Linked DNA regions of Homo sapiens: regions 1, 3 and 4 are each linked to region 2. Evidence: fine-mapped expression QTL. A gene starts in region 2. Each other region holds a variant in brackets. All regions are shown on one strand. Distances are between the middles of the regions. Region 1 overlaps CDH4 (cadherin 4). Region 2 holds the start of CDH4 (cadherin 4). Region 3 overlaps TAF4 (TATA-box binding protein associated factor 4). Region 4 has its middle 12 kb from the start of MIR1257.

Evidence for each region. PIP is the estimated chance that this variant, and not a neighbour inherited with it, causes the effect.
Region 1: its variant is the best candidate, but not a certain one, in a credible set for the expression of CDH4 in nucleus accumbens (GTEx, PIP 0.56).
Region 3: its variant is the best candidate, but not a certain one, in a credible set for the expression of CDH4 in prostate (GTEx, PIP 0.75).
Region 4: its variant is the best candidate, but not a certain one, in a credible set for the expression of CDH4 in pancreas (GTEx, PIP 0.62).

What each region holds. Positions count from the first base shown.
Region 1 is chr20:61,300,730-61,306,027 of GRCh38, forward strand. The region is part of intron 2 of CDH4 (cadherin 4); the gene reads left to right. Among named protein-coding and RNA genes, the nearest start is that of CDH4, 51 kb to the left of the region's middle. The variant G/A (reference allele first, on the strand shown) is at 3,114.
Region 2 is chr20:61,249,930-61,255,227 of GRCh38, forward strand. It overlaps CDH4 (cadherin 4), which reads left to right and starts at 2,332. Exons shown (of 16, transcript NM_001794.5): 1 at 2,332-2,641; 2 at 4,897-5,008. The coding sequence starts at 2,585. RefSeq lists an enhancer at 4,436-5,128.
Region 3 is chr20:62,005,285-62,010,582 of GRCh38, forward strand. TAF4 (TATA-box binding protein associated factor 4) reads right to left here. Exons shown (of 15, transcript NM_003185.4): 4 at 4,762-4,881; 5 at 3,768-3,890; 6 at 2,263-2,352; 7 at 1,226-1,474. Among named protein-coding and RNA genes, the nearest start is that of MIR1257, 54 kb to the left of the region's middle. The variant T/A (reference allele first, on the strand shown) is at 2,200.
Region 4 is chr20:61,963,352-61,968,649 of GRCh38, forward strand. No RefSeq gene overlaps it. Among named protein-coding and RNA genes, the nearest start is that of MIR1257, 12 kb to the left of the region's middle. RefSeq lists enhancers at 1-1,146, 2,049-2,677, 2,678-3,307 and a silencer at 589-789. The variant T/A (reference allele first, on the strand shown) is at 2,418.

The sequences.
Region 1 (5,298 bases), 51 kb after region 2:
ACACTCATGGGTCCCCTGTCAGGGGCGAGGCAGTCTCTTCTACTCCCAGGACAACTGTCTGTTTAGGTGGAAAAACATTGGCTTCCTGGCAGAGCCACCAGGAGGTAGGGACCCTGGGAAACAAACCCACCTCCTCCTCCTCACCCTTCCTTTTGGAGCAGTTCAAGCTGTACAAAGCCCGGAGCACCAGCCATGGGCGGCTGCTCCCTCCCCCGGCCCCTGCAGCTGGCAGCAGGGCCCTCCCACCTCCTCACATGAGCTGCTGGGCAGCCGTGGACTCACCCCACGGTTAATCCCATTAACTTCAAAGCTCACGACTCTTACCTCGCAGTGTGCCCGGGGCTGCGCCCAACTCCCCATTTGCAGTGTCTCTGTGAAGGTGCCAAAGCCCATGGCCCTCAGCCCGCTTCACAGATGGAAGGAGCGAGGCTCGGTTTAGCAAGGTGGTTGCCGTGGTCACTAGAAAGTGAAGGAGGAGAGCTGAGCCTGGCCTGTCTCCACAATGGATGCGGTAAATGCCTGAGGGCTGCTGTGTCAGGCAGGAACCAAGGGGATACAGTGCTGGGGCCTTTACATTTTGTCAGTGGTGCCAGCGGTGGTGCCCTGCCCATATGTTGGCCATTTGGGAAAACAGCAGCCATGTTTGAAAACACATTGCCCCTTTATTTAAATGGGCAGCTGCTGGTACTCACTGGCCTGGGCGTGTGCATTTTGCTGACATTTGGGGCAGACCCTTCTGTTGAATTCTCGATGCTTCGCGAGGCCTCTTGCCTTGGTCATATGACCTCCAGAGAGTTTTTGCTGCTTTTTAAGTCGTTTCAAGCGATTATTCTCCGGCCATAAAACTCAGCTTTAAAAATAGGTTTCATAAAGGCCCCGACTTTTCTTCTAATTAGTGTAAAGATTTATTGAATATACATCATATGCACAGATCATAATATTATTAAAATTACTATTAAGACTTTACACATCAAAATATTTCAGGCAGTGGGGAGACAGGAAGCCTGATGGTCCCTGAGAATCGAATCTGCATTGGCAAGATAAAGGACAATTGAGGGCGATTACAAAAGCCATGATTTAGAGTACAACATAAAACTCTGCTGAGAACTAATTCGTATTGCCAGCTGCTGCTAAGCTTCTTAATCTTTATCTAGTTCAATTAAAATCTGAATGTTTGGGATTTCATTAACAACCGGGGGTTTGGAAATTACATGCGCTTTTACGCCATACTTCCGTTGCTGACTGACAATATTGGAAGTTGCCCAAAACGTCTCCAGGTAGACTTATGTATAATTAAAACTTAAGTATTTAAAGGCTAATGCAAAGGTAAAAGCAGATTGTTTTAATTTGCAAGTCAGATCCGACTGACAAAGTAAGGAGACTCCACTACAAACGGTGCCCCTTTTGTGGGGAGAGAGAGCATTTAGTAGGCCGAGGTCTGGGCGGTGACCTGCAGCTCATGGTCGAGCCCTCACCACAGGGCCGGTTTCCGTGTGAGGGCCAGGGAGCTGCTTTGGGCATCTTCTTAGCCACTGGGGACCTTGTCACGTTCCTGTGTGTGCAGTCCGTATCCTCACTGTGGTGCAGATGTGTTTGCTGTCTGCCAATTCATTATGCGTTTTCAAGACTTTGCAAGCAGGTCTTTCTAAAATTAAACCAGCCAAAGTGATGAACAAGCTTAACGCCTAACTTCAGATGAACGGTGAAAAGCAAAAGCATCCAGGATGTTTCCTGTATGTGTTTCCTTGGCCTGGGTTGGGGGGGGTCTGTTGTCACAAACGTCATTCTTCACAGGAGAATGGGAGGGTCTGACTGAGGTTGGGGGTGGGGGCAGGGAATCGGCATTGTTGTCCCCTCCATCCCTCAAGTCATCCTGAGACTGGTTGGTGCCTCCCATGTCCTGCATGGCCCGGAGGGATGGCTGCAGCATTTGGGTCTGTGTGAGACACACCTGTTTCGGTTCCCTGAGCATGGGAGGTAGAACAGGGACCCCCAAAGATGCCCCAGTCCTAATCTCTCCACCTCTGAATGTCTCACCTTGCCCCGCAGAAGGGACTCTGCAGATGTGATGAAAGTGAAGGATGCCGAGATGGGAGGTTATCCTGGTTGGTGCCATAGAACCCCAAGGTCCCTTCCAAAAGGGAGGCCGGAGGGTCAAGGTTGGGAGGAGAAAATGTGAGGAGGGAAGCAGAGGTTGGAGTGATGTGAAAGAGGCCATGAGCCCATAACACAGGTGCCTCCAGAGGCTAGACAAGGAAGGATTCTCTCCTGGGGCCTCCCCAGCATGGCTGACACTTGGCTCTTGGCCCAGGGAAACCCATATCAGACTTCTAGCCTCCAGACCTGCAAGATATAAGTGTTCACATTAAGCCATGGGGTTTGTGGTGACGTTACGGCCACAGTAGGAAGCAGATACACCCTGAGACCCAAAGCATGTGGCTCCCCTTCCTATGCCTGTTCTCTCAGCTGTGAAACAAGAGTGGAGAGTGGTACCCAGGCGTTCTTGTGAGGATGGGCGAGATGGTGAATGTGTCACCAGCCTGGGTCAAGGAGGGCGATATTAGCCATGAGCTGCTGCTGGGGTGGCCTTCCTGCTGCTGGTCCAGGTGCCTGGCCTGGTGCTGGTCAAGGCCACGAGTCCTCTGCAAGAGCCAGGGCAGGGGTGGGGGACAGCAAGGGGCTCGAGGCACAGCCGTATCCACGCCCTGCCCCGTCTGGCCCTGCTCTTGCCATTTTTTTCCAGCTCCTCTGGCTGCCCCTCTTCCCCTTCTCTGCCTCATCCTCACCCTCCTGCTTCTCCTGGGTTCCCAGCAAGGCTGCAGCAGCAGGACAGGGATCCAGGTGGGCCCCCAACTGGTCATCTTGTGATTTGGGGGGTGTCTGCTCTCTCCGGTGCCAGCTCTCCTGAAGTCCTCTTCTCTCTGCCTTCTCACCTCCAGCGCCATTGCTTAATTTCCCTGTAGCTCTTTTCAGGGGAGCAGGGAGGAGGAGGTAGGAGCTGGGCTGAGATATGTGGAGCATCACTGTGCATCTGTGCCCACCCCCAGGCCCGGGACACGGAGGCACCAGTGGGAGGAGCCCACGGAAGTCCAGTGGGGCAAGCTGGAAAGCGA[G/A]CCTTCAGCAGCAGCCTGGATCCCAGGAGGTCCGATGGGCACGGTGCCATCCTGTTTTGTTTACTTAGGCAACACGTGCACCTCCTCTTAAATAATAGAGGCTACTTCGGAACGGAGTTGACCTGGGGCTGTTCTTCTGAAGGTTAACACGGCCGTAGGGATAGGCTCCTGCCAGTGGCTTCATTTCACACGTTTTTCTGGGTGGTGATGTCCCCAGTTCTATGGGACCCTCAAGGAACCCGTGTCCTGGGGCCTGGGAAGGAAAAGGCCAGGCATTCCTTTCCTCAGCTGCAGATCAGGAAACTGTCTTCACAGCCCCAGGCTTCTATGAAGACGAATCCTGGTTTTAGGTCTTTCTCTGCCCATCCTCCGAACGCAGTTCTCAGCAGTCAGCATTTTGGATTGAAGATAGTGGACGGCACCCCCCCAACCCCCCGTTCTTTGGTGTGGTCGTTATAGGAGTGACTTCCTAGGTAATCACTGAAGTGGCCAGTTTTTGTTATTTTACTTCATTCTGATACTGGTTTTCTGCGTCCTAGTTTTATTATTTCATATTACATTGTATTGCTTCATAATGGTCTGCGTGGTTGGCTTCTCTAAACGATGAGCCCCTGGAGGACAGGACGCCTTTGGTCGTGTTGTGTGTGTGTGAATGTGTGTGTATGTGCTGTGTTTGTTGTGTTGTATATGGTGCATATGCTGTGTGTTTTGTATGTTTTGAACTCTGAATTGTACTAGAGGGCCTGGCTGTGCCATAACAATATTAAGAGGCCTAGAGAAAAGGACAGCAGAAGGGGTGCTATTGGCAGGAGGTTTATAAAGTCCAGGAGCAACTAGAGACGATGTATTTCTAGACTATGTATGTACTAGAGCCTCTGTGTGTGCAGTGTGCTGTGTGTTTTGCATGCAGTGTGCATGTTGTGTGTGTGGGGTTGTGTGTGTGTGTGCAATGCATGTATTGTGTGTGGGGATGTGTGTACAGTGTGTCCTTTGTGTTGCGCATGCAGCACGTGTATTGTGTGTGTGTGTGTTCGGTGCGTGTGTTGTGTGTGGGATGTTTGTGCAGTATGTTGCGTGTGTTGTACATGCAGTGTATGTGTTGTATGTGTGTGTGTGCTTTGTGCATGTGCTGTGCGTGGGTGTGTGTACAGTGTGTTGCCTGTGTTGGGCATGCAGCATGTGTGTTGTATGTGTGTGTGTTCTGTGCGTGTGTTGTGTATGTGCAGTGTGTTGTGTGTGTTGTGTATGCACTGTGTGTGTGGTGTGTGCTCTGGGCCTGTATTGTGTGTGGGGAGTATTTTTCAGCGTCATCTCTGATGTTGAGCCTGACTGTCCGTAAGTGTGTGTTTCGGTGGATCTATAAACCTGCCTTTTTGTTTTGTGATTTTTGTTTTTCTTTGTCTGGGGGCAGAGGGGGAAGAAACCTTCCACCCAGCGTGGCTTTCGAGATGCAGGGCCAGTGCACCTGCCGTATCTTATGCAGCGACCTTACAGTCTTCAGGCATCTAGTGATCAGTGTGCTGTGAACCCCCTGGAAATCCTGCTGAATGCGGATTCCCACTCCCGGGGGAGGTGGGGCCTGAGAGTCTGCATTTCCAACACTTTTTCTCTATGGATGCTGCTGGTGTGGGGACCACACTTTTGCAGCAAGACTTTGAACAGCCTGAGGTCCTCACGACATTCCAAGTCCCTGGACCAATTCCTAAGTTATTAAAAATAAAACTCCCTTGATTCTTTTCAATTCTCTTGACCTCGGTTCACGAACCTCTCTCTTCCCCTTGGTCTCAGAGCTTCCCAGGGCTTTGGTGGCCATGAGTTTGTGCATTTCCAGATGTCATCCAGCTCACCGCTCACGTGCACCTAAGTGGCTGGGTTAACATCAAGATCGAAGGGAGCCACCTTGATCTGGAGCTTGTCATTTTCATGAAAGATGCTGCCACATCACAAATGGATTTGGCAAATGGCTCGCCAGGAGATCCGTGGGAGTTCAGAGATAACTGAAAATATGATCTATATCTGTATATTTGGCTTCTAGAGTGAAGATCGGCCCACGGATTGATCTGATAGGGGTGATAAATATATAGTCCCTAGTTGCTCTTGGACTTTGTAAGCCTTCTGCCAATAGCACCACTTCCGTTGACCTTTTGTCTAGGCCTTTTGATATTCTTATGGCACAGCCAGGCCC
Region 2 (5,298 bases):
CAAGCTCCTGGGGGATCTTGATGCTGCTGGTCTGGGGACCACACTCAGAGTGACAGGCTGAAGACCATTCTTTGGAGGCACTGCTTTGTATTTTAGGTCATATTTTTCTTTTCTGTCTCAGCAATCTTTGCTGCTGCATTCAGAGTAAGTCTGATAAACCAATGCTCTCTACTGGACTCCTGTCAGTTACTGCAGTGTTTCTGAAACTATGTATTTCGGAAAATGCGAGTTCCCGTAAGACATTACAGCTGTGTAAGAAGGTTTCTTTGAACAAAGTTGGGGCCATGCTGCGTGTGCCAGGGTCCCAGCTCTGGGTGAGAATGCTGGCACTGCAGCTTTCCCCGTGCCTGCCCTCTGCACCCTCCTCTGCCTGACTGTATAGTGGAGTTAGAAGGACTCCAAGAGCAACTTTACATAAAGCTCCTACACATGTCCCTGGCACATAGCTAGCACCTTGTAAGGACAGGCTATTGTCAAACTCTACCCTTTCTGGAAATCACGCTGCAGTAGACTCAAGATTCATTCAGTAGTAGAGGGAGATGTGCTTAACACAGTGTTTGGAGTTCAGGACCCACCTGCTCCTGGACCCCAGTCTCCCTGCCACACACTCATACCTTTTCTTTTTCAAATTGGCGCGCTCCTCAGCGCTTCAACAGTTTCGCAGAGCACGTTGGAGCAAATGCGGGGGTCTGTGATGCCTCTCCAAAGAAATAACTCGCATAATGCTCAGGCCTCCTGCAGACAAAGGTGTATCCCCAGCGACAGATATTTTAAGAAAATAGACCAGGGACACAAGACAAGAGAGCTGTCTTGGTGTCTAAAGCAGTCTTGGACAGCTTCTGATGTCGCTCGAGCAGTGGTGAAGCACCTTGAATAAGGAGGAAAGCAGAGGGGGCGTCTTCCCAAAGGACGGGCACATGGCCGAGGAATGGAATTCTCTGTCCATGAGGATTTTGGATGGATCTGTTCATGAAACCTCACTGGCTACGCAGGACCTTCGAGTGAGTCTAAACCTCCAGCCATGTCAACTGGTAACCTCTCCTTCTTCGGCTAGGTGGGGAGTGGGACAAGGCCATAACTGATAGGAGTCCAGGCTGGGGCAGATTTTGTGTCTCCTGACTAGTTCCATAGTTAAGTTGCAAAACCGAATCTCGCCTTGTGCTCTCGGATGTAGTGCTTACTCTGGTCCTCTGGGGTTATCTAAAATCTGGTTTCCTTAAGCGTAAGGCAGAGCTCTAACCGGGAGACCACCCTGCCCCCAAGGGTGGGGGTTCTGGGAGGGAGAGAGGGAAGCGGCTGCTCTGTAGCTTTCTCTACTGGCTTGCCCAAGTGGACTCTGATCTTGGAGCTCAACAGTGTCACTCAATCTTCCACCCTCTCCTTTGCAACCTATTTCTTAAACCAGAACTAATGTATTCTGGACACAGAGTCCCTGAAACCCCAGACAAAGAAAATTCGATGTATCTGAACAAACAAAACCGCGTTTCTTTAAATCTCCAAGCCAAAAGGAAAAGTGCAGAAACATTTACTCACTGTCCGACCTGTACATATATTTTACCTGATAACCCTTAAAGAAGTGCCCCCCAGTTCAGCCATCACCCATGCAGGGCAAAGGGAGCTGGAGCTGGCCCAGCCTGTCGGCGCAGACACTCCTGACAGCTCCTGTCTGGGCACTTCTTTCTTTCTTGGAGCTTCTAATTTCTTTCTTGGCTTCTGAGGCCTAACAGGGTGTTTTGATGCACACACAGGAATTACTACCGTCCCCAATCCTAGGGTACATCCCTAGCCCAGGCCAGGGCTTTGAGTTTTCCTAGGAGCGGGAGGGTCTGCAAAGCCCCACAGGCTGAAATCTCAGCGTGGCCCTCTGCTCATCTGCTCCAGGTGGAAACTCTCACCCCTGAGCTGCCCGACCTGGGTTCAAGCCCGGGTCAGGGGAGTTAGCAAGGAGACACCTGAAAAATAAAAGGACAGAATGGAAGTGCACACTCCCACCGCGGGCCCGGGCGGGAAGTCGGACTAAGACCGCGGCGGGACCGCCCCATCCAGAAAGGGTGCCCCGGGTGTGGGGGCGGAAACCCCAGCGCTGTCTTCAGTCTCCACACCCGCGCCTTTTTCCCCTGGAAAACGAGCGTCCTTGGCCTCTTCGGCCGCAACCGGGCGGCTCCAGACGTCCAGGAGGGCAGAGGCTGGGCTGGTGCGGCGCGGGGGGCGCGGGCGCGGGCTCTGCGCCTTTAAGGCCCGCGTCGGCAGAGCGAGCGCAGGGGCCGGGCGGCGGGGCGGGGCCTCGGCGGGGCGGCCGCGGCTTCACCTGCAGCTCCGAGCGCGCGGAACAGAGGCGCGGGCGGCTGCGAGGCCGGCGGACGCACCGGCCCGAGGGAACGCGCCGCCGGCCGGACTTGGCCTGGCTCCCGGAGCCGGGGCGGCGAGCGCGGCGGGCGCAGCGGGGCTGGAGGCTCCGGGCAGGCGCGGGGGAGCGGCGGCGGCGGCGGCGATCGGAGCGGCGGCGGTGGTCTCGGCGGCGGCGGCGGCGGCGGCGGCAGGGAGCGGGCTCCCGGTGCCGGGCACCGGGCGGGCGGCGGGGAAGATGACCGCGGGCGCCGGCGTGCTCCTTCTGCTGCTCTCGCTCTCCGGCGCGCTCCGGGTAAGTTGCCGCCTCCCGCCCCCGCCGTTCGGAAGCCCCGGGCAGCGGGAGGTCGTCCCCGGATCCCGCGGGGCGCTCACACACCCGGCGGGGCTCTCCCGGGCTCCCCCGCCGCGCTCCCCGCTGCATCCAGCCCGGCGCCCGCGCTCGGCGAAGCTGCCTGCGGTCGGCAGGAGCGGGAAGCCGCCTGGGCAGCGGGGAGCGGCGGAGCAGGGTGGGAGTGGGGCTCGGTGGAGGACCCGGGGAGCTCCGCCTGCACCGGACCCGCCGAGCCTCCCTCGAACGCCCAAAGCCCGTAGCCGCTACCCGGAGCTCGGCTTGCCTGCATGGGGCAGGCTTCCACTGGCGGAGCCGGCGCGCCCTCCATCGCCCGGGAGCCGCGCGCCGCGGGAGTTGCCGAGCCCAGCCCCGGCCGTGGCTGAAGGCGTGGGGCGCCCGGCGGCTGCGGGCCAGGGATCCGCGAGTGCGGGGCGCCTGCCCGACCTCTCCTGCCCAAGGCCTGGGGGTCCGTCTAGCGGCGCCGCTCAGTTCTGTGGGTGCCGGCAGGACCCGCGCTGCGGGTGGGCGGCGGGGTAGGACTGCGGGGCACTCTCACCCCCGAGCCCTCGGCGGGGCTGGAGCCTGCGTGTCCGGCGGGGCCCCGGGGGCTGGGAGCTGGGCCGGGCTTGGGCCGGGAAGCCGGACGCCGGGCGGGCGCGGCGCGGGAGGGCGCCCCGGGAGGGCGAGCGGGTCTCCCGCTGCCTCTGCAGAGCCCCGCGGGCCGGATTGCCAGCTTTGCTCTGCGCCTGGCGAGGTGCGCGGCCCGCGGGGGCAGAGAGCGCGGCGGCTCCGGGGGCGCCCCTGGGCGGAGGCGGAGGGGCGGCGGGAGTTGCAGGAACCCCCTCTCGTGGCCGATCGGCCTCGCTGCCTTCTCCCGGGCAGCGCTGTTGTAACCTCGGAAATAAACAAGTGCCAGCGGCGGGAGGCCCGCTCCGAGGCCGCGGGGCGCTGGGGGACGCGCTGGGCACACGCTTCGGGCGGGCGGAAACTTTCCTGGGCGAGTTGAGCCTCCCACCGGGCTGCGGGTGCGATTTGGAGCTTCGTGGCCGATGAAGAAAGCCGCGGTTTAGAGCTTTTCGTAAGGAATGACCCTGCGTCCCGCTCTCCTCCCTCGGTGCTGGGGGTAGAGGGGCGCCCTCCGCGGTGCCGGCGTCGGGAAGCCTGGAGCTCCGGGCTGGGGGCGGCCTCCGGAGTCGAAGCATGGGCGGGCGACGGCAGCGCGCGGAGCTGGAGGAGGCGGCGGGCGGGAGGCGCCACTGCCCGGTGCGGGCTGCACCCGAGGCTTCCTGCGCTCGCCGGGGAGCCAAGCACCGCTGTGCTCCTGCTCCTTCAGCGGGGCTGGCTTCCCGCTTGCACACACTGCCTCTCCCTCCACCACCTCCTCCTGCCTGTCACGCCCCCTCCCAGAAGCTTGGTCGGAGGGCCCTGTCGTCCACCCCATCCTTCCCTGGCCCTGTGCCATGGGCTCTAGACTTCCCCACTGAGCAGGAAAGGCGAGCGAGCTCCGGAGGACAGGAGGAGACCCCCTTTCCGGTCAGTTAGGGGAGCCGTCTCCCTGCCTGGGCTGGAGATGGGGGCTCCGAGGGTGAAAATGCGGGCTGAAGACTAGAAGGTGGAAGCGCCCCCACTGCCTCCTCACCCCAGCCACCGGCAGCCTCCCGCAGAGCTGCCTTCTTCGACCGGCTCCGGACCTAGTCCTAGAGAATCTTCTTCCTTTCTCTCCTCTTTCTCCTCCCTCCCGGTGACCTGGAGAGGAGACAAGAAGCTGCCTCCTCCGCCTTACCAAGAGCGCAGAGCGGTGGGCCTAAAGCGCGAATGGTCTGAGCAGAGCCGCCCACACTTTGGCCTCCCTGCCCTTAGTGGCTTCGGGAGCAGCGGCTGAAGTCTTCTGTCTCTGCCTTTTGGTCATTTCTCAGGCGTCTCCTCTGCCAATAAGGCCCTGGCCGGCCTGGCTTCCCCAACAGTCCGTCCTTCACTCCCTGCCTGCTGTGTGTGGGGCTGGGGAAGGATGCTCCTGGTCTGTAGCCTGGAGAGTGCTCCCTAAAGTCCCCAGAGAGCAGAGGAGCAGACGGGGTATCGCGTCTGGGTGGAGACGGTGGCCTGCCAGCCTTTCTCTCTTAGCCAGAGACCTTTTACACAGCAGGCCCTGGATGAATGTTGGTTGGATTAAATTTCTGTGAACTTATTGTTTTACACTCTCCCCTTTGTGTTCTCAGGCCCATAATGAGGATCTTACAACTAGAGAGACCTGCAAGGCTGGGTTCTCTGAAGATGATTACACGGCATTAATCTCCCAAAATATTCTAGAAGGGGAAAAGCTACTTCAAGGTAAGGCGGGGTGTGGAGGGGTGGGAGTGAATTGCTGCCATGCTTTTCCTTGGGGAAACATGTAGATGGGAGAGGCAAGGCTTGCCTCATCTTTGTGCTCTCTGTGAAATGATGGTGGTGAAGTCCACGAGGTGCAAATTGGTTGACCTGAAAGGCGTTTTGCATAACAGGTGAATGATTCAGAACCCCGGTCATTTTTGAGTGAAGTGAATCATTTCCTGGGCAGCAAACTGTAATTCGGATGTAACATCACCCAAATAGTGTGCAGAGAGAGACCTTCTTACCAAGTA
Region 3 (5,298 bases), 760 kb after region 2:
GATTGGATGCCCTGGATCCCACTGGCTGTGCTCTGCAGACTCACACGTGGTCAGGAGGAGCCCAGGGAAGCAGAATGCAGAGGTGATCCTGCTGCCAAACACAGCACCTAATTCTAAAAACACCCATGCTGCTTGTGTGTGACTAAGCACCAGAGGTCAAAACTTGGCAAGAAAATGATTGCCCACAGGCTGTGCCTGCTTAAACAGAACCCACCTTTTTGGGTAAAGTAGCTCCACTGACTAGTGAACAGGGAAGTTCTGTCCTTACACTAAAGCAAGAGGCACGGCACATCTCTTTCCCTCTGGAGTCAAAAGGCAGGCAAGGAAGCCCTCTCTTTACACAGGCGCTCAGCCCTTCCCTGGCCTTTATAAGGGACACCCTCCCTCCATGCCATTTCACCCTGTTCTCCTCGCTATTATCAAGACAAAAACAAATGCAACTTGAACAGAGCACAAGAGCCAGCCCCCTAATGGCTACTCCTCACCCAGCTGGTTCTGATGTGTACACCATCACAACACATACCAGCTCATGATGAGGGAGCCCGCACCATTTTGTTGTTTAAGCTGTCTTTAGAGGAAGAAAACACCTCTGAAATTTTTTTAAAACTGCCCCTCTACGTTTGGTGAATCCCTCTGCCCATGAAAGGGAATGTGCTCAAAATGTAATTCTTCTGGCAAAGACATCCTTTCTCTAGCTGCAGAGCAAACGTCATGACTATAAAACCAAGAAAGCCAGATCCAAACTGCACATAAGTGAACCGCTATGAGCAGCCGCGGCTTCGCCTCCCGGGACTCACCTAAATCCACCCTGTGCTGTGAGCTGCTACCCTGCCTCCAGTCTCCTGCCCACCTGTCCCACGCAGGTGCCCGTGTCTTACGCTTGGACCGCTGCTCCTAATCCAAGAGAACATCTATCTACAAGATCCTCTAAAAGCACGCTGCATTCATTTACACCAGTAACATCCCCAGACAAGGCAGGGCGGGGACGTGCCGGTGGTTCAAAGCCAACTCAACTATTTCATTTTACTGAGACAAAATACAACATCCCAGGGCCTCAACCTCTGGTTTCTATTTTAACTATTTAAGGTAATACCCAAGCTTCCTCTAGCAGGAGGCTTCCTGCATGCTTGGAAAAGGTTTCTGAGCCGTGGCCAATTTATCTAAGAAGCGGGCGGGAGCAGAGGCACGGTGGGCTGTGCAGACCAGTCAGGCGCCCCTTCCATACCAGCGGTGTGGGTTGCCCCTGCTTGCCGACGCCGACCTGCGTGGGCTGCGTGAGGCTGAGCACAGGGGGCTGGAGGGCACTGGTCACGGTGGCCGCCGTCTTCCCGGCCGTGCGCTGGACCGAGCTACTCAGCACCACGGCCGTGAGCGCAGTGGTGGCCTGCGAGGTGGGCGGTGGCGGCTGCTGCTGGCTCTGCTGGATGAAGGCCGCGGAGTCGGGGGTCAGCTGTCTCAAGGCGGGTAAGCTCCTCTGGGTGGAAAGACAGACACGAGGGGTCAGGCGGCTGCTCATGCGTCGGTTTTCCTTGCTTAAAAATTCAGAAATATCAACTTTTACAGAAAGCTTTTGAGCTAAGTAAGATGGATCTTGGCCCTCACGGCAGCATGTCTGGATGTCAAGGGCCAGGACCCCATCCTGCCCTCCCACTAAGTGGGATTATTCCTGATAGCAAATGTCCAAAATGTGTTCAAGAAAACAAACAAAAAGAGACATATTTTTAAAAAACTTTTTAAAATATGTTAACATCACTGGAAGAGAAGATTCTGAATGTTCCCAACACATGGAAATAAGTACTCAAGGTGACAGACCCCAAATATCCTGATTCTATCTATGACTGTAACAAAACATCACATACACCTCATAAATGTGTACAAATATACGTATTGATTTTTAAAATGTGCTGATACCAATGATTACCCAACAGAGACAGCCTGACGCTGTTGAAACCCTTGGTCCTATCCAGTTTTGCAAACGCTACCCCATTCCCCGTCCCCTTCACTTTCAGGAAGCACACGCCCTTCTCACCACCTTGCGCACGACAGAACCACAAGGCCACCGTGTCAGGGGAGCTCCTGCTTTACAGAAAAAAAACTAACATTCTGTCCCCAGGCACTGAGTCCCCGGCCCCACCCCCGTAGGCAGCACAAGCGCTGTGCACCCTCCGTGCCTGGAGCATCCTCGCCCTGCACACTTGG[T/A]GCATCTGCGCCCCACCCCTCCCTGGCCCTACTGCTCGCAGGCACCGGGGCCTTTGAAATTACCTTCAGGAAAGGCACAAGGTAAGGTTGAGGTGAAGAATTAAGTTCTCGGTATAACCTGCTTGTGAAATCTTCTGCTTCTATTTTTCCATCCTTAAAAATAAAATCCATGTTGAAATTCTGGTGAATGAGATTCCACACACACTTCTGAATCCCGCATCACTCTGGTCTCGTATTTTACGGCTGATTCCGCCCCGAGTTTCACTGGACAGAGGAGATGGGAAAGTCTGCGTGCTACACCTTTCACAGGTACATGTGTGACAGGCGCTCACCCTGGACACTGCAGTGCAGCCAGCTGCGGACCACGTCTCCTCCTGGGAGGGTCACCTGTCTACTTCTCGTCTTTTTCTAAGTCTCTTACTCAATGCCAGTCTTTACTCAGTGCTTACCAGGCACCTACTCGGTGTCAGGCATTTTGCTAGGAGGCAGATCAGCCTAAAAGTAACTCCATTATCAAAGCCAGCACTGCAAGTGCGGTGCTGCAGGAGGTCACAGCGTGCCAGGGGCCACACAGACAGGATCCACACAGTCAGGGCATCCGCGCCTTCAGGAGCAGATGACAGCTGTGCTCACCCCTGCAAGCGGCCAGGGTGCCCAGAGTCTACAGTCAGACAAAAGGGAGCCCAGAGCAAGAGGGCCAGATCCTGTTTCAGAAACAGAGGCCAGTGTGGAATAAAGGTCGGGAAGACAGGCGACAAGGCGGGAAGGCGGTGCCTGGACTGAACCCTAAGAGACTCCGGAAGACATGGTCAGGCGGACAAGGAGAAGGCACGGTAAGACCAGCCACTCCAGATCCCCAGGCCATCCCACTGACGCCAGCACAGCCCTGAGCCACGAGACAGCCATGAGGCTGAGGAAGGTGGACAGCCGAGAGCTCGGCCATGAGTGGAGATCTGGAGCTTGGGACTGTGGGTTAAGGAGAGGGGAGGCTGCCAGGAATCCTCCCTCCCACCTTCCGGCCAGGGGACAGAGTGCTGTTCTCTGCGACAGAGGTTTCGGGAGGGGTGGGGGTGGGGGGGACGGCTCTGCCACTGGAGCGCGAATGTGCCTCAGCTGGTCTGCTCCATGGGGAGGGGGCTTCTGGTGGCTCAGGGTGCAGAATGCCTGTTCCAGCCGGGACTGCGGACACCTGGGAATTTTATAAGAGGTCACACAGGAGTGGGGAGAGGGCCAGAAGGGAGTTGCTGGAGACCCTGACCAGAGTGCAGCATGGTTGGGGCAGCCAGAGGAGAAGAGAGCCACAGACAAGGGACGCAGGCACCAGAAAACGGCAAAGCCCGGGAGACCTCCAGGCGCCGGCCCCAGAACACCCAGCCCCAGGAAGGAGTCTCCTTAGCTAGGCCACACACGCCTTCGACACGTGTGCACCCCTCCCCTTCGCCTGCAGCCTTCCAGAGGAGCTCTCCCTGCTGGCACAGGCCTCCCGGGCACAGGTCACAGCAGCAACAGGTGTCTGTCCTATGCAACAGGCTTTAGGGGAAAGGGAATGTAAAGTCAAGGTTTCTCACCAGTAAATTCTGCACGAGCTCTTTCACATTAGCTGCTGTCTCTGTAGACTGCTTGCCAGATGAAGCCAGTTTTATTAACGTAGATAGGAAATTTTTACATTTCTTCACGTTTTCCATAGTTTCCTGGATTAAAGTAAAAAGATATAAGTGAAAAATCTTAAAAGGCAGATTTTTGTCACAGCCTTTGGTTACTAAAATATGCATATGTACAAAAGATACATATATTTCTTCTCTAAACTTCTTTCAAGAAAACGCACCACCTCTTGGAACCCTGGGCCATGGGGCAGGCCAGCCACATCAGTCACATGGCCACCGAAGTCAGCATCTCCCTCAGCCCCGCAAGGCCACATCTAGGAATGCAGCTATGCAAATAATTAAAAAAGTGAAAAGAGACTCTGCGAAGATGCCTGCTACAATGTTGCTGACCATAAGGACAACCTATGCCAATCCAAACGGACACAGAAGGAACCAAATAGGATGCGGTCACTAAAGCAACGAAAAGTACGCAGCAAAGAAACACCAAAAAGGCGTCAAGTGGGGCCCACTGTTTAAAGATGTCTATCGATACAGGCCGACACTGTGTGTACAAACGGGTGGCGCTGCTGTTTTACACACTGAACACAACAGTTCACCAGTGACTCTTCTGTTTTAATAAAGATGTGTATCGATACAGGCCGACACTACGAGTGTGTACAAACGGGTGGCGCTGCTGTTTTACATACAACGCGACAGTGCACCAGTGACTTTTTCAAAGGCAGGTGTTTGGGCTTTTGCTGTTTGCAGACTTCTGCGGTCTAAGGCCCTCGGAGCCCACCTCACACAGCACAGCAGCAGAGCCCCACGTGCTCACGTGGGCCCCAGACTGTTCACTGCTTTGTGAAGCAAGCAGTGAGCGGTCTGGGACAGAAGCCGGCCTGAGGTCTCAAGGCTGCATTTTCTGACCTGCGCCACGGGCCTGACCGTCTTTGAAGGCACGGAAAGGAGTGGCTCTTACCGTGGCAGCTGAGGAAGTGGTGGTCGCCCCTGGTACCGTGCGCTGAGGAGTCCCCGTCTGAACAGCCGTCGCCGTCCCAAGTGAAGCCGTCTGGGCAGCGCCACCCAGAACGAGCTGAGGCTACAAGAATCCAAAAACACAAGGTAAGGGCATCTCACGCCACCAGCTGACGAGGGGGAGACCAGCCTCACGCCCAGCAAAAGAAAACAAGCCTCCCTGCGGTGGCCAGGACGCCCAGGAAGCCAAGGACCCCGGCCACCTGCCAGCCCGCTGGACACGGGAGTGCTGCTGGGAGGCCTGCCCTGTGCCCTGACGATCGCAGTCCTGAGCGGGTGAGGAAGGCATGATTTGCACCTGCATCAAAAACGGACGTTCACAAAGCCAGGCACTGCAGAGACCCCAGTCCTCAGAAGTCCATGGAAAAAGTCACATAGAGACCAGAGTAAATAATCCTAACAGGCAACCCAGATCCCCATCTCTCAGAAATCAAAACAACAAACAGAAGAACGGCTCCTGAAAGCTCCATCCTCCCAGGTG
Region 4 (5,298 bases), 710 kb after region 2:
CAACTGGGGGGCTGGGCTACAGGAGGCTTTGGCTGAGCCCCTCCGTGCCCAGGGTACAACAAATATCAGGACAGTACACAGGGACTTGCCTTAGGAAAGCCCACCCAGCCAAGCACAGGACTTGCATGAAGATCAGAAAGTTTACTGAGGCACAGGAAGACTTCCTCTGGAGATGGAAAGGAGGCAAGGGCCCCGGACCACACTCTTCTTAGCATTGGCCTGGAAGCCTCAGCCTGTGCAGAAAGCAAGAAAAAATAAAAGATGTAAAGGTTGGAAGGGAAAAAAATAAAATGTGGTTGTTCACGGATGACACAGCTGCATACAGAGGAACGCCTCAAGAATAGATAAACAATCTGTTAGAATTAATCAGTGGAGTTATAAGGTCACTGGGGACAAGGTCAATATACCCAAAAAACAAATCCATCAAGTGTTTGTAGACTAGCACAAACAAACAGAACACGAACTTTAAAATTATAGCATTTACAACAGTATCTGTATTAGTCCATTTTCATACTGCTGTGAAGAAATAGCCAAGATGGGTAATTTATGAAGAAAAAGAGGTTTAATGGACTCACAGTTCCACGTGGCTGAAGAGGTCTCACAATCATGGCGGAAGGTGGAGAAGCAAAGTCACGTCTTACATGGCGGCAGGCAAGAGAGCGTGTGCAGGGAGACTGCCCTTTATAAAACCATCAGATCTCATGAGACTTATTCACTATCACGAGAACAGCACGGGAAAAACCCACCCCCATGATTCAGGTACCTCCCACCAGGCCCCTCCCACAACACGTGCTGATTATGGGAGCTACAATTCAAGATGGGATTTGGGTGGGGACACAGCCAAACCATATCAGCATCCAAATACTTAGAAATAAATCTAATTGGAGACATGAAAGACCTCCACCTGCAAACTACACAGTGAAATTAAACACATAAATAAATGGCTATGCCATATTCCTGGATTAGAAAATTCAATAATGTAAAATGTCAGTTCTCCCCAAATCAATTTGTAGATTCAATGCAATCCCAGTAAAATTCCTAGTTGAGTTTGTTTGGGGTGGTGTTTGTTTGTTTGGAGACAGGGTCTTGCTCTCAAGACCCTAGGTCCTGGACAGGGTCCACCCCTAGGCTAGAGTACAATGGCATGATCACAGCTCACTGCAACCTTGAACTCCTGGGCTCAGGTGATCCTCCCACCTCAGCCTCCTGAGTAGTTGGGACTACAGGCATGCATGAAAATTTCTGTATTTTTTATATAGACAGGATCTTGCCTTGTTGCCCAGACTGGTCTCAAACTGCCAGGCTCAAGCAATCCTCCCACCTCAGCCAGCCAAAGTGCTGGGATTACAGGCGTGAGCCACCGCAATAGGCCAATTTTTTTTTTATTGTTTTGTTTTGTTTTGTTTTTTTAAACTGAGCTGAGAAACTTCAAGTCACTGCTGGAGGAGTCAAGACGGCAAGCCAAAGCCCTGTGTGGCTGGGGTGGGGTCTGGCCCCGCTTCACCCTCACGGAGCCTCCTTGGCTTTAGGAAGAGCAGAGGTCCTTTCTCAGGCACTGGTGGCTGTGCTTCAAGCTGCTGTGGTGGAGGCTGAGCCAGTTTCCCACCCACCTGCCTACCAGGAAGCCCCGAGTCTGTCCCTGCAGTCCCTCCTCCTGGGAGCTGCTGCCGAATCTAGGGTGTCCCCGCCTGTTTTGCTTTCTGGGAAGAGTCTCCTCTCTGAGAAGCAAGATCCCCTGGAGATGCGGTCGGTGCTGGCTCCGCCTGCCCTGCCCTGCCTGCACACCGTTCCGGGTGTCACCACCCCAGGCGACTGCAGGACCCTAGATGCCCTGAGGTCCGGGAAGGCGGGGGGTCCCCGAGTCTTTTACTCCCTGGAGATAAGCCTTCGCGGGGTTCGCAGGACTGCGTCCTCCTGGGCCCCTTTTTCCTTTTTTCTTCTACCTGGGGGTTGTGGTGCCAAATGCCTCTTGGGTTCCAACGTCTGGTGCCCTCTCAGGAGTTCCACCGGCAACGACCCGACGTGCAGGGACTGTGGCAGGTTTGTGACCCCTCCCCTCCCCGCAGAGCCTGGCACATCGGCAGCCCTCCCGCGAGTCAGCCTGGGTGACTGCGACTGCCCTGGGCTCTAAACCCCGGGGTACGGGCCAGGTGTCTGCTTGGGGAGGTGTAGACGGACACAGGCAGGGTGGGAGGAGGCGAAGGTGTCCTCCACGAAGGACGCGGGGCGCACCGGGACTCCAGTCCCCGGCACCCTCCACCCGGCACCCGCGTCCCCACACGGGCCGCGTCCCGCCTCCCCAGCCTCCCTGGCCCCCCCGGCCGCCCCCACTCACATCCCGTTGCCCCCCACCTGGCCCCCACCATGCACCCAGCATCCCAGGCCCAGGTGCCCCGCCCCGGGCCTTACCCACGGGC[T/A]CGAGCCTGATCTCCTCCCCGGGCCCCCCGCCCCTGGCTCCTCCTCGGCTCCCACAAGGCACAGCCTGTGTCCGCCCCAGACCCGCCGCGAACTCGCGCTGCCACCTGCCGCCTCGGCCCTGCCCCCGGCCCCGCCCCCAGCCCTCTAGCCCCGACCCCGACCCTCCGGCCCCGCCCCTCCCCTGGCCTGCCACGTGTCCCCTACCCCGCAGGGCAGCTGCGTGTTTTGTGTTCCTGTCTCTGCGGCCAGGTGGGGGCGAGTGCGCTGAGGTCAACCCTCGGCCACCCGGGCGCTGGGTGGTGCTGCCACTGTCCCCATTTCAGAGATGAGGAGACTGAGGCTCACAGGGGAAAGGGCCATCTGCATCCGGAGGAGGGCCTAAGCCAGACTCTCCCTGGAGGAACAGGGAGGCCTCGACTAGCCCCTCCCCAAACGCAGCAAGTGGGTGCTCTGAGGAGGGGGTGTGGGGACCCTTCCCTCTGGGGCCCTCAGAAGGGGTGGGCCTCAGCCCCACCATGTGGCCCCAATCCAGCCCTCAGGACCCGCCAGGAGTCTCAGCACCTCCCCACACACCGAGTGTCCAAAAGCCTCTGACATCCCCTCTAGGGGGAGCGCTCCCCAAAGTCTCTCTGGCAAGGGTTCTCGGCACCACCAGGGTTGGGGCCCACGCTTCTTTTCCCCTCAATCTACCCTGGGAGGGGAAGGGCGGGGAGGGGCCCTGGCAGGGCAGCAGCGAGGACTGGGCAGTTGGCTTTCCAGGGCCTGGCTTGCAATGTCGGGCTCCCCCTCCATCCTCAGCTCCTGGGAGCTCGTTCTCGTGGCTGGCTGGGTCCACCGCAGCCTGGAATTGGTGTGTGGCATTCTTATAGCCACCTGCCCCCAACCATGAAAACAGACCCAGTGCCAGTCTTCAGGCACGGCTGGATCCAGGCGCCAGTCCTCAGGCACGGCTGGATCCAGGCGCTCCGGGATGCCATCAAGGCTGGCTCTTCATTCGGCCTCTGTGTTGGTCTCAGCCACACTCTGCCCCGCAGTGGCCACGGTGGCAGTCCTTGGACAACTGAGCTGACGTCCTGCCAGCCCCCAAACATGAAGTGTCCTTCTGGGAGTTCCTGTAACATGTCTGGGTGAGACAGGACTGGCCAGGCTGAGGTCACGGCCATCCCTCAGCTTGTGTCAGTGACCAAGACAAGCCAGGCCACATGACCCACCCCCCTGGGTCCACCCCGAGCGGGTAGGATGGGTGGGGCCTGCTGGCCCCATGTGCCCGTGCAAGGCGCTGTGCCGGGAGACACGGGGCCCCCTCAGTCATCACGTGGCATTTCTCATAAGCTTCTGAGGCGGCCCAGGGACCACCAGGGCTCCAGTGTGGCCAAGAAGTGAAGTCTGAAGTGACCCAGAGGGCTGCTGGTGAGGGGATGAGTGCTCAGGACGGAGGCGGAGGGCTTCCTGGAGCTGGTGGCATTTGAGAGGACATAGGGGAAGAGCAGCACAGAGTGGAAGGCCCTGCTAGAGAACTGGGCCACATTCAGGGGACTCTGGCAGCCCAGCAAGCTCCAGCTCCTTGGACGCTTGTTGGCGAAACAATATTGTACGTCCCTCCCTCCCCACCACCCCTGCAGCCTAGAGATGGAAAGGTCCCTCCACCAGGACCAGACCTCCTCCCTCCTCCCACCTCGGACCTCCCACCCCACCTCCAGCATCAGCAGACAGTGCTGGACCTGGACCAGGGTCAGGAGCAGTGCCCCCCACCCCGCCCCTCAGCACCATCAAACCTGCCACCTCCCTGCACCCCTTCCCACCTCCCCTCCCTTCCCCCTTCCCCTCCCTTCCTTCCTCCCCTTTTTTTACCCCCTCCTCCCTTTCCCCACCTCCCCTCCGTTCCCCCCTCCCTTTCCCCCTCTCCTCCTTTCCCCCGTCCTCCCTTCCCCCCTCCCCTCCCTTTTCCCCCTCCCCTTGCTGCCTTTTCCCCTCCTCCCTGCACCCCCTGCTCCCCTCCCCCTTCACCCATCCCTCCTCCCTGTAACCCCCTCCCCACTCCCTGAACCCTCCTTCCCCTTCCCTGCACCTTCCTTCCCCCTCCCCAGTGCCCCACCCTCACCTCTTCCCCACCCGCACCTCTGCTTCTTCCATTTGGCACCTCCCATGTTCCTGTCTCCACACACGAACGCAGCTTTTTTATTTTTCATTCATTTATTTTTGCAGCGTTATTGAGATAGACCTGATTGACGTATGGTAACCTGCATATATTTATAGTGTGCAATGCGGAAAGTTTCGACACTTTGCACACCTGTGAAACCATCACAGTCAAGATAATTCTCCATCACCCAAGTTTCTTCACGCCCTTGGCAGGCCTCTCCCACCCCATCGACAAAGGTGCCCAAGGGCCTTTCCTCACTCCCATCACTGCGCTGCCCAGCATCTCCCACAAGTGGAAGCAGCGGGCTCCTGCTGTCGCAAGCGTTCCACTGCGGGGTAAAATAAAGCTGCTGTGAACCTTGTACAAGGCTTTGCTGGACACCTGTGTTCATTTCTCCAGAAGCAGCGGTGAGAGACGCATGTTTAACCCCTTAAGAAACTGCCAGAAGGGTGTGAACCACAGTCCACACCCCAGCACCTCCAGGAGTTCCGTGCCCTCCCGACACTCGTCCTGGTCCCATCCTCACGAGTGTGTTCCTGGTATTTTGTTGCGTTTTTAATTTCTAAATAAGCTCAGGAAACATGATTCTCAACATCCTCCTCAGATGCACCCAGAGAGAAGCCGCCTCTCTTCTGCTCACACCTGAGAGCTCTCCTGTCCACCTGCGCCCTTCCCCAGCCCCAGCCTTTTCCACCTCAAGCCTCTACCCAGCCCCTTCGCCAGCCAGGAGGCTCCCCAGG